2 separate regions of the Homo sapiens genome follow, and region 1 is linked to region 2. Evidence: fine-mapped expression QTL. A gene starts in region 2. The other region holds a variant in brackets. All regions are shown on one strand. Distances are between the middles of the regions. Region 1 overlaps CD99L2 (CD99 molecule like 2). Region 2 holds the start of CD99L2 (CD99 molecule like 2).

Evidence for each region.
Region 1: its variant is fine-mapped to the expression of CD99L2 in whole blood (TOPMed, PIP above 0.99). The same link has a PIP of 0.9 or more in monocytes.

What each region holds. Positions count from the first base shown.
Region 1 is chrX:150,764,889-150,770,256 of GRCh38, forward strand. CD99L2 (CD99 molecule like 2) reads right to left here. Exons shown (of 11, transcript NM_031462.4): 11 at 1,448-4,213. The coding sequence ends at 4,146. It overlaps MTMR1 (myotubularin related protein 1), which reads left to right. Exons shown (of 16, transcript NM_001306144.3): 16 at 1-220. Among named protein-coding and RNA genes, the nearest start is that of MTMR1, 74 kb to the left of the region's middle. RefSeq lists a silencer at 2,800-2,909. The variant C/G (reference allele first, on the strand shown) is at 3,387.
Region 2 is chrX:150,895,788-150,901,155 of GRCh38, forward strand. CD99L2 (CD99 molecule like 2) reads right to left here and starts at 2,881. Exons shown (of 11, transcript NM_031462.4): 1 at 2,735-2,881. The coding sequence starts at 2,801. RefSeq lists a silencer at 2,556-3,165.

The DNA.
Region 1 (5,368 bases), 130 kb before region 2:
ATTTCAATCATCTGTAATTAAAATGATCATATGTTTGCTCCCTGGTCTTTTTTAAGTAAGTAAGTAAGTATCTTAGTAGATTTTTCCTTTGAGGAAAATCGGTAATAAAATAACATGGATTGAATGTTTACTGTGCGTCAAGCACAGTTAATATATGATGATGTAAAGTAACTAACTTTATGTGATTTAATTCATTCAGTAAATTGTAAATGTATCATGAGTCTTAAGTAAGTAAGTAAGTAAGTAAGTAAGTATTTTGGCTGAAACAGGAAATACTGATTGATTGATTGATTGATTGATTGATGATTGTAAAGTCAGAAACGCCCTCAGCTCTAACCTTGAGAAAACGTGGACGACTTGGGGAAAGGTCTGGAGACACCTGAGAGGAGCCAGTCAGGGTGATGAGTCCTTCGCATGCAAGTGCAGTGCTCTCTAAGGCCTCAGACTGCCCCCACCCCAAAGGAAGGGGCGTTCACCTTTTCAGGGCCACGAAGGCCTGGATGAAATCACACCACCCCCTGTGCCCTCTGTGTGTTGTCGGTCTTCTTGTTAAGGGTGTGGGGTCCCTGTCCCTCTCCACACACGTTACTACTGAGTGAGCCAGAGAGCCCGGTATTCACTGGGCACAGAGGATGCCCAGGGGACTGCTTGCCAGCCAGCCTTCCCCAGCAGTGAGACCATAGCAGCTAGCCATGCAGAACTCCTGCACGAGACAGGCATATGGTGGTCTCGGGTTTGAGAGGACCTGATGCTATTATTTCACTAGAAGCCGAGGTTGGCAAAACAAAATGAAAAAACAAACAACCGACCTCCATGTTAAAACCCAGGGTCCACTGCATCTTGTTTGTTTTCATGCTGAAATGCCCTGAACTGAACTGTCGTCTTCTCAATTTGAAGCCAACATGCGAGCTGATGAGAAGGACATACTTCATCCCAAACGGGCCACTCTCCATGAGGCTGCAACAAGTGACGAGGTGCAGGGCTCCTTTCTCACCCAGCTTTCTGGTTGAAAAACAACTGCGCGTTAACTGGAACCTCCACTGGTTACCAGCCTGCTTGGAAGGCGGCAGAGCAGTCGACTTGGGATTTGTGAGCCTGGGACTTTTTGCTGCTTCCAGGCCCCGGACTGCGCAACCCATGTAGCCCGGGAGCGGCCCCGCAGCACTCTGCTCCTGCCTCTGCCCTCTCTAACCCCAGGACATTGGTCGCTCCACATCCCCTGGCCTTAGCTGCTTGTACGGTGAGGAGTCACCCTTGGAAGTCCTGACACTGAGCCAGTCACTGAGGGGTAAATGCAAGAATTCTAAGCTTCTCGAGAAATACCTTCAGCTGGGGGCGGGGCGGGGGGAGGGGGAGGAGGGCAGCTCTGCATCATAAATTACTTACTTTAGGGAAAAGTGGCAACACTTGACCAAGGGCGTGCCTTAACACCATCAGAAGACAAGAATCTGCTCGGTGCCATTTTATTTAATGCAAACACTAGACAGTTTACAAGTCACACCTGGACACAAGCACGTGAACAGATGTACAGGGAATTCTGGAATTTTGAGATCAGTCCCCATTTCTTCCTCAGGGCCCTGGCACTGAACCCCAGCCCCTGTCCCAGAGCCTCCCCTCTGGGTCCCACCCCAGAAGCCACGCACACCTCCTTCCGCCCAGCTTTATCTTTCCTTGAGCTGTGACTTCACCCAGCATGTGCTCAGAGTTGTTACAAATTTTCTCTGCCAAATTAAGCTGATAGAGATTGGCCACTTTCAACCAGTCCTTTCAGTCCACTGTGTCTCCCCTCTCGCTTGGGACAGGCCCATGCTGGCCAGTGCAACCTTCAGATAGACACATGGTGACCAGAGCCCGCCAGGCTTCTGCAGGTGGCAGTGTCGAGCAAGTGTAAGATGTCTGTGGGAAGGAGAAGCTCCTGAAATGAACGTTCTGCAAACAGAAGGCTGAGGGGTCTTCCAGGCATGTCCAGTCACTAGGAGCTGCCACCGGTGGGCTTGAGTGCCAGGCTCTAGGCTTTGTGCAGAAAGCACCCGGGGCGGGGGGCGGTAAGGGAGAGCAAAATGGGTCTCTCTCAACTGCAGTCAGTGCTCCTGGGAACACGGTCTCACAGACAGCACATATTCTACGTCACAGCTCTAGGGTTTCAAGGACTTAGCCATCCGACAGGCCTCACCATAAAGGTAAAGTGGACAACCCCTGAGGTCACGCTGTCCAGGTGGCGACAGGCCACGCATGCCAAAATCCTCCATAGCCACCTCCGGCCCAGCACCAGCCAGAGGGTGGGGCCATCGGTTCTCGACATACTTGGTATCAGGGAGGGACAAGCCTGACAAAGTTCACAATCTGGCCAATGAGTGTGGGAGGCCCTGGAAACAGGCCAATCCTGCAAGCCACCCCACCCTTACTAACTTCCTGAAGCATGGGAAGCTTCTCGAGACCAGGCCAAGGTTTCTTTCCTTCATGGCACCACGCAGAGGCATTTCTGCAGTGCTGCAGGTCCCCCTTCAGCCACACAGTCCAGGTCTGTCAGGGATTAAAGGGCCGAGCAGGAAAAGGGGTGGTAAGGAGCTCAAGGGCACGCACTGGGAATGGCCTCACAAGGCAGCCTTGAGACGCACAGGGCTACAACTGACCACCCTCCACCACAGGCATGTTTGCAAAACGAACACGAGGCATGCGTTAGACAGATGCATGTGGGGGCTGCAGATTCCAGTGGTTTCCTTAAGAAACTGGAGTTGGCTCATCCCACTCAGCAGACAATCCCGCTCAGTGGACAGCCTATGAAACGCATGGGGCCATCATGCAGACCAAAGAGGCCCGTGAGTTTTGTAAGATCCTGCCTGTCTGGTGACTCATATCTGCTTTCAGAAGTGCTTTCTGACACAGCAAACTGACTATCAGTAGACAGGGGCCCTAGACCCTAGCATGTGGTTCTGTCCCGTGAGCCTCTGACAACAGAGCTCACCGGGACAGAACCATATGTGGGCCAAAGGAACATTCCAGGAAACCAGCTCTGCTCCAGCCCAAACCAGGCAGCTCCACGCCAGGTGAGGGGCGAGTCATGGGGTTCCTGTGTTTGCCACGGTGAGCATGGCTCCCCACGCACTCTCCCTCAGAGCAGACAAGTAGGCTGACCACAGAGCTACAAAGTCACCTGCGTTTCACTAAACCAAGCGAATGTCTCTTTCCCCTCTCCTCCCCCGCCGCCCCCAATTACATTTTTAAGCAAACAAGCAGGATTCTGGCTTTGATGCTCGTTCTTGACATCGGTCACTCTTGCTACCAAAACAGGGACACAGGGTGGAGGGTGAGCACCTCTCCCCAACACAGGATAAAACTCATCTCCGGTGCAGAAATGATTGCTAAAGACCTTTCTCATGTCAACC[C/G]GAAGGCCACACCCAGCCCCCTATGGAATCAGATGGGAAACAGGCCTACGAATTGCTTCATACTTATCCGGAAGATTCCTAAGCTCTCAAGGCAGGACTATCACGAGATGCATGTTTGTACTTAAATCACTGAAAGCCTCCGCTTGGACCGGCTCTCCGGAAGCCCAGCAACATAAAACCTGGGATGGGGAAGACTGAAGTGAAACCATCATCCTGGGTGCTGCGTGTGTGTGGTGTTACTTGGTGCTGACCGGTTCGCTCCTTGCAGGGGCTCCAAGTGGGTGCAGGCTGAGCCCCCCACCTGCAGCTCCTTGAGGCCACTGTCAGGGGCTGTCTATTGGCAGAAACCTGCCACAATGAGCCACTCCAGTGTGCAGGGGTCACAGTCCCTTGAGTTCAAACTCTTGTCCCCTAAGCATAAATGTCATCAGGCCTCAGCATCATCTTGGCCCCCGCATCCTGTGCTCAGTAAAGCTGGAGGCAGGCTGGCTTTGGGAGTTGGTGGCTCAGCAGCTCCCGAGGCTGGTGCTGGCTTTCTATCAGAGCTGGCTCTTGAATTTCGGCACCAAGTCTCAGCACGCTTGGGGCAGGGCAGAGAAACCAAACTCACAAACACCCAGAGCTCATCCGGGAAACTCAGACCAACAAGGAGCCGATGGCACAGAGCAGCACAGCAGCTGCGGGTCCAAATGAAGGGGTGGGGGGAGCCGGGTGACAAGCGGTGGCACCATTGTGCATGCCTGCAGCTGGACAGGGCCCTCAGATCCGGGCTGGTTCGGGCGGCGGCGGCGGCTCTGCAGACTGCGTGTGCAACGTGGAGTATTTCACTAGGGGAAAAAGAGGCCGTCAGAAGGAATTCTGCTCTGTCTTGCACAGAAGAAGCAAATACAGCAGCAAGCCCGTGCTGGGAACAGAACTGGGTTTCCCTTTGTATCCCCTGGGGGGCCGCTTAGCAACCTTCCCTCCTGAGCCTGGGAGCAGTTTTGGGCCGGTCAAGGGGAGAGAAAGAGAAAGCTGGACAGGCTCTGGAAACAGCTCAGCCTCCATCTCCTCACCTAAAAAATGAGCGTGTTCCTGCCAGCGCTGCTGGAAGGGTTATTTTAAACAAAGGGCTCAACCTAGCACCTGCCCACACAGATGCTGGCCTCGTGGTGGCTAACCGTGGCAAAGCTCATGACAGTGGATGCGACAGCGGAATCCATTTTTCCACATCTGAACCCAGGCCTATTTTAGTTCATTTGGTGCAGCACTGCCACCCGTCTTCAGCAGCATTGTAGGGCACCTGGCTCCCAGTACACACCACACAGGCTGAGCCCCTCCTGGTCTCCCAGGCCCAGTCCCCACGGCTGCTGCACTGTAGTTCCACTGGCAACACTCGCCTGAGCTGTCCTAGTCTCCCTGCCTGCGCCACCAGGCCTCGGCTGCTCCCCGACCCCAGCAAGCCTTTCCGGACCTCCTCATTGGCATCCCGTGGGCACAGGTCATATCTGCCTCGAGCAGTTGGGCACTCTAGGCCTGTGGCCTGAACTTATGCGACCTCAAATTGCCAACAGCTCCTGAATCCAGAAAGTGCTTGATGACCACAGAAGGGGGAGGGAGGGGCACAGGTGTTGACAATAGGGTCTGGGTTTTACCCAAGTTCCCTCTTGCCTGTGGCAATTTGCAAAGGGAAAAGTTCTAGGTCTAGGTGAAAAGCTTCCCCATGGCTCTGTTCAGGATGTAATTGTATTCGCTGATGGGGAGCAGAGGTGCCTGGGGCTCTGGCTCGGACGGACGAATCAAGGGCAGGGGCCGAGCAGCCGCAATGCCCAGAAGTCACAGGCATGGCAGCAGATGGCCCTGGCTGTCACCCCAGCATCTTTGGGCTCCTGAAACTGGGAGGCAGGCTCATCAGGGCAGGCTTTTGCTCTGGCCGGACATTCTAGAAGCAGACGCCTCTGTGCTTCCCTGCTTCTCTAGCACAGTTCTGCTCAGTGCTGGGA
Region 2 (5,368 bases):
GAGGCCGAGGCAGGTGGATCATGAGGTCACGGGATAGAGACCATCCTGGCTAACATGGTGAAACTCTGTCTGTACTAAAAATACAAAAAGTTAGCCGGTGTGGTGGCTGGCGCCTGTAGTCCCAGCTACTCAGGAGGTTGACGCAGGAGAATGGCGTGAACCCAGGAGGTGGAGCTTGTAGTGAGCCGAGATCGCGCCACTGCACTCTAGTCTGGGCGACATAGCAAGACTCTGTTTCCAAAAAAAAAAAAAAAAAAAAGATCCAGAAAACTGGGCCCTTATCTTGAAACCAAAGCTGCTTCTGGTTTCAGTTAATTAATTTAAACAATAAGCTGGGCGTGGTGGCTCACGCCTGTAATCCCAGAACTTTGGGAGGCCGAGGCGGGCGGATCACGAGGTCAGGAGTTCGAGACCAGCCTGGCCAACACAGTGAAACCCCATCTCTACTAAAAATACAAAAATTAGCCGGGCATGGTGGCGCATGCCTGTAGTCCCAGCTACTTGGGAGCCTGAGGCAGGAGAATTGCTTGAACCCAGGAGGCGAAGGTTGCGGTGAGCCGAGATCAGGCCACTGCACTCCAGCCTGAGCAACAGAGCTAGACTCCGTCTCAAAAAAATTAATTAATTAATTAAAAATAATTTAAACAATAAAAGATAACTGGGTAGCAGTCTTATCTGGGTTGAATCCTGGCTCTATGTCTTCTGAGCTATATGACCAGGGCCCCCTCATCTGAAAGCCAGTGATAATATCTAGCCTGCAAAATTGTCGAGGCAATTTAAAGCAATATATGTGAAGTGCCTGGCACACAGGAAGAACTCAGGAGATGGTAGCTGGTAGCAAGGCTGTAGATCTAAGCCTGGTCCCCTCAAAACACCTTTGTGATTGTCAGGCATCATATGGATGATCAAACAAGTTCGGGGAACTCATTTTCCCATGGTCCCTAAGTAGTCGAAGTGGGGTACCTCCAGGTGCAAGGGCATATGCCTAGGGCTTAAAGGCAGTGACTGCGCAGTCAGACAAGCCTTGCATCAAATCATAATTCTGGCAATCGCTGTGTGACCTAAGGCAAGTTACTTCACCTCTCTGTGCCTCTGTTTCCTCATCTATAAAACAGATGTACTGTTTCTGTCTCCTCTACCACCTCTTAAATCAACAATTGTAACGTGCAAATCTGAGACCCAATCATTTCTATTCCCCACCTTCTCAACGGGCACACCATGTTGAAGACTTTCAGAAGACAGCTTTGAAGGGAGTATCATTTTTCTAACTTTTTTTGTGCTTCTACTTTCAAGATTTCCATGTCATTAGATGCAAGTCAATCAAATGATCATACATTTTCCTACAAATGCATTGTAAACAAAATAAAAATTTTATCCCAAAGGGAAAATGAAAAAGAAAATTCAACAACTCTTTACCCCTGTAACTTCCTTTATTTTTCTCCATAGCACTGACAATATATATAGATTTCAATGTTGGGCTTGTTTTCTGCCCGGACCAGGATGTAAGCTCCATGAAGACAGTCTCAATTTTGTTCACTACCGCATCATCAGTTCCTAGAACAGAGCCTGGCACCTCTGCAGAATGTTAAATGGCTCTTCGTGAATCAACTCCAGGTGGGTTGCCCACATGAAAAACATTTCTGCATCTTTTGCAAAAGTGGCTTGGCTAGTACCATCCACTGTTTTCCAGTGTTCCTTTATGTGACATAAATCTTACTAGAACTCAGTACTAGGACAAAGTGTGTGTGTGTGTGTGTGTGTGTGTGTGTTTCCTGAGCTCACATATTTTCCACCAGCTGGGTTCGCTTCTATTGTCAGGAAGCTTGGAGCATAATTCACGTTCAATTACAGTGTTTCCCTTAATCCCTTTTTCTGATGGGGACATAGGATATAAATAAGTGTAAGAAGATTCTGTTGGTACATGTTTAAGACCCTATTTTTAACCACAGACTGCATTTATTCTACTAAGATGCTTCTCAAACTTGAATGTGCCAGAGAATCACCCGCGGATCTAGTTGAAATGCAGAATCAGACTCAGTAGGTCGGGGGCGGGGCGTGAGATGCTGCAGTTCTTACAAGCTCCCAGGTGATGCCTATGCGGCTGGGCCCTGGACCACATTTTGAGTAGCAGAGGGTCTAAGAAACGTGCTTCCTTGATTCAGCGGGATTTCTCTCTCCTGCTCCTTGGCAAAACATGACCAAAGTCTCAAAAACTGAAGCGGACGGCAGAAGCACCTAGAGAGCTGGTTAGACCTACGCCTCGCTGACCCCCCCCCCCCCCCCCCACAGCCCATGCCCGCTGTGATCCCGATGAAAGGGGCTAGGAATCCACCTAGGAAGTTCCCCAGGTGCTTCTGCTGTCGGTGGCCTCGCAGCAAATTTCGAAAATGACTGCTCTCTTCAAGGTTTTCTCAAAGGTAAACTCTTGGGGACAGCTGTTGTCACCAGTGGTACACCTGCTCGTTCAGGATTTTAGGGGGCCCATCCCGCTGTTTCCAGCCCAGCGTCAGGAGGGGACCCACCCCTCCTCTCCGGCTACTCCGACCGCGGCGGAGTCAACCCCCACGGGCCCGGGGCTCGGACCCCCGCCGCTCCGCCTCGCACAGCCGGGCCGGCCGGTGGCAGCCACCGCAGGCCCGAGAGGCGGGGACCGTGCCGCTCATGCGCAGAGCGACCCCTGGGCCCACAAGGCGGGGTCCCCGCGCGGTCCCCGCGCGCCCCCCGCCCGCCTTACCTCGCTGGACCAGGGTGGCCAAGGAGAAAGCGAGGCAGACAAGGAACGCCGAGCGCCAGGCCACCATGGCTGGGAGCAGGCGGAGGGCCCCGGAGGAGCACAGTTAGCGCGAGAGCGCCCGAAGGGGAGGCCGAGGAGGAGCGGGAGGAGGAGCCCCGCCGCCTCTGCAGGGTCCCGCCCAAAGCCCGCGCGCGCGCGCGGCGCGGCCCCGGGAAGATGGAGGTCGGGCGCGCTAGAGAGCCGGCGCCTGAGGGCGCCTGGGCTGGGGTTAGGCCGGGGGGCGGGGCGAGGCTGCAGTATCGGGGGCGGGGCCGCGTTCTGGAGGCGGGGCTCCGGGCGAGGGGCGTGGCCTGCGGGCACCCGGTGGGTGGGGAGGCCTGGGTTGGGTTGGGCTGGGTCCAGCGGCAGCGCGCGGTCCGCAGACCCTGTCCCACCTCGGTCCTCGAGACCGAAGTCTCGGAGGTGGCCCCGCGGACCTGGAGCAGTGAGTCACCAGTGCCGGGGAGCGGGAGGCGGCAGCGCCGGTGGGCGCCGATTTCCTCCCGGGTGACCTTGAGAAGGGCTCTTCCCCTTCTGGCCTTGGTGTTCTCCCGGTGAAGGGTTGTTCCCTTGGGGCCCCTCCAGACACCGTCCAGCACGGAGCCCCGCACTCTGTCCCCACCCGCTGTTCCCTGCAGGAGTGAAACCCTGGCCGGAGACTGAAGAAAAGGACCGTTTTCGTGACTGGCTGCGGTCAACAAGCAGTGACACGTCTCGAGAAAACGAGGCCGGGGGCGCCCGGGTGGGCGACAGGGGAGGATGGGGGCGTCCCGGAGCCGAAGCGCCGCGGGCTCGGGAGACTGGGGGTAGGGACTGGGTCAGCTCTCCCGAGGCTTTGATGAATGCGCTGAAAGTGCAAGTTCATATCTGCAGAGTCGATCTCAAAAACGTGCTTAATGACCGACAAACGCGCTGCAGTCCTTTCCCATGAACCCCCGCAAACGGAGTCCGTCTCCCAGACCCGAAGAAATCAGATTCCGATACGATACTGTGCCGACCAGCAAAATGCCCGCTGCAGCAGTTGATGGGAACGCTCCCTAGAAGAGCCCCAGCTGCAACCGGCTCTCGAAGACAAAGAGGAAGCGCTACTGCTCTCCGGAGTGGTAGCGTGAGCCTGTCCCTGCCATTATGCGGCACCGGCTGCCCAGGGCCACATCCTCCTTAGAGGGCGGCTACTACCACCTCCCCTCAATATCCATTCGGCAGCTTTCCTGTGCCCCCAACCCAGCCCTCGCTGCCATAGGCACCCCCCTCAGTGGCTCCCACCAACCCCTAAGGAACAGTGGGGTGTGGGGTCTCCCTGAGATGGAGCCGAAATCTCCCGTGTGGCTTACATCCATTGCCCTGAATCTTAGGGCTGCAGAAACAAAACAGCATATGAGGAGTGGATCTTCCCAGGCTCAGGGCATTAATTACTCTATGAATGGAACATTATTCCATTCTAGCTGTAGAATTAACAGAAATAGCTGGTAGTTATTGAACACACACTATACACATGGCATATTCCAGGCATTTTACCCTTAATTTTTATTCCTCACAATGCCTTATGTATCATCACCTATTAACGAGGGAAAAGCAGCAAAATGGAGGTTCCTTGAGGTTGGGGAGTTAGCCAGGTCTAGTCTCATGTGTCAAAGGGGGAGGGTACCACTAGGAACCCCAGCTGGTGAATGGCTAAGAATGTGTGCTGTAGAGCCAGACCGGGTACAAATCCTGGCTAAACCCAACAAGGTTGTGCTAAGGATTAAATGAGGTGGTGAAAAGTGGACAGCCTGCACACAGTGACAGAGGGCAGGGACCATTACTGGTTAATCTAGTAACGGCTAAGGAAATAGTGGCCACTGTGAGGTCAGGAGGTTACTGTCTATTCCAGGCTGTGGACATGCCCCCACCTTTGCTACTAAGTGCCCTGAGCCATTCCATAGGCCCTGGTGGTACCATCTGTACCTGGAGGGCAGTAGATTTTCTGGTCTTTAGGAGTCTTCCAGGATCTGATGGGTAAACCCTGATGCATACACACTCATCTACACTGAGGAGGTGAGAAGCATGTAACCTCTTAAGTTTGAGGCCATGTCAATCAATATGCAGTGGACAGTCACACTCAACTGGAACTCTAGCTGCTAAAGGTGCTACAATGCCATATGCAATAAGACTGTCTTCTAGCTCAAGAATAGTTCTCAAACTACACCCCGTGGGCTAAATCCTACTCCCACCTGTTTGTTCAGCCTTCCAGCTAAAAGTAGTGGTTGCATTTTTAAATGGTTGAAAAAAATCAAAAGAATGTTATGACATGAGAAAGTGATACAACATTCAAATTTCAGGGTTCATGAAGTTTATGAGAACACAGCCACGCCCATTGATTTTTGTATTCCCTATGGTGGCTTTTGTGCTGCCACAGTGGAGTTGAACAGTTGTGATAGAGACCATGGGGCACACAAAGCCTAAAATATTTACTGTCTAACCCTTACAGAAAAAGTTTACTGACCTCCGTTCTAGCAGATTGAACCATGGCAAGGATGAACATTAGCAGGTGATGATATGGGACCTTAAGAGTGTGCTCCTCTAAAGCGCAAAATGAACATAGATGACCTGCTC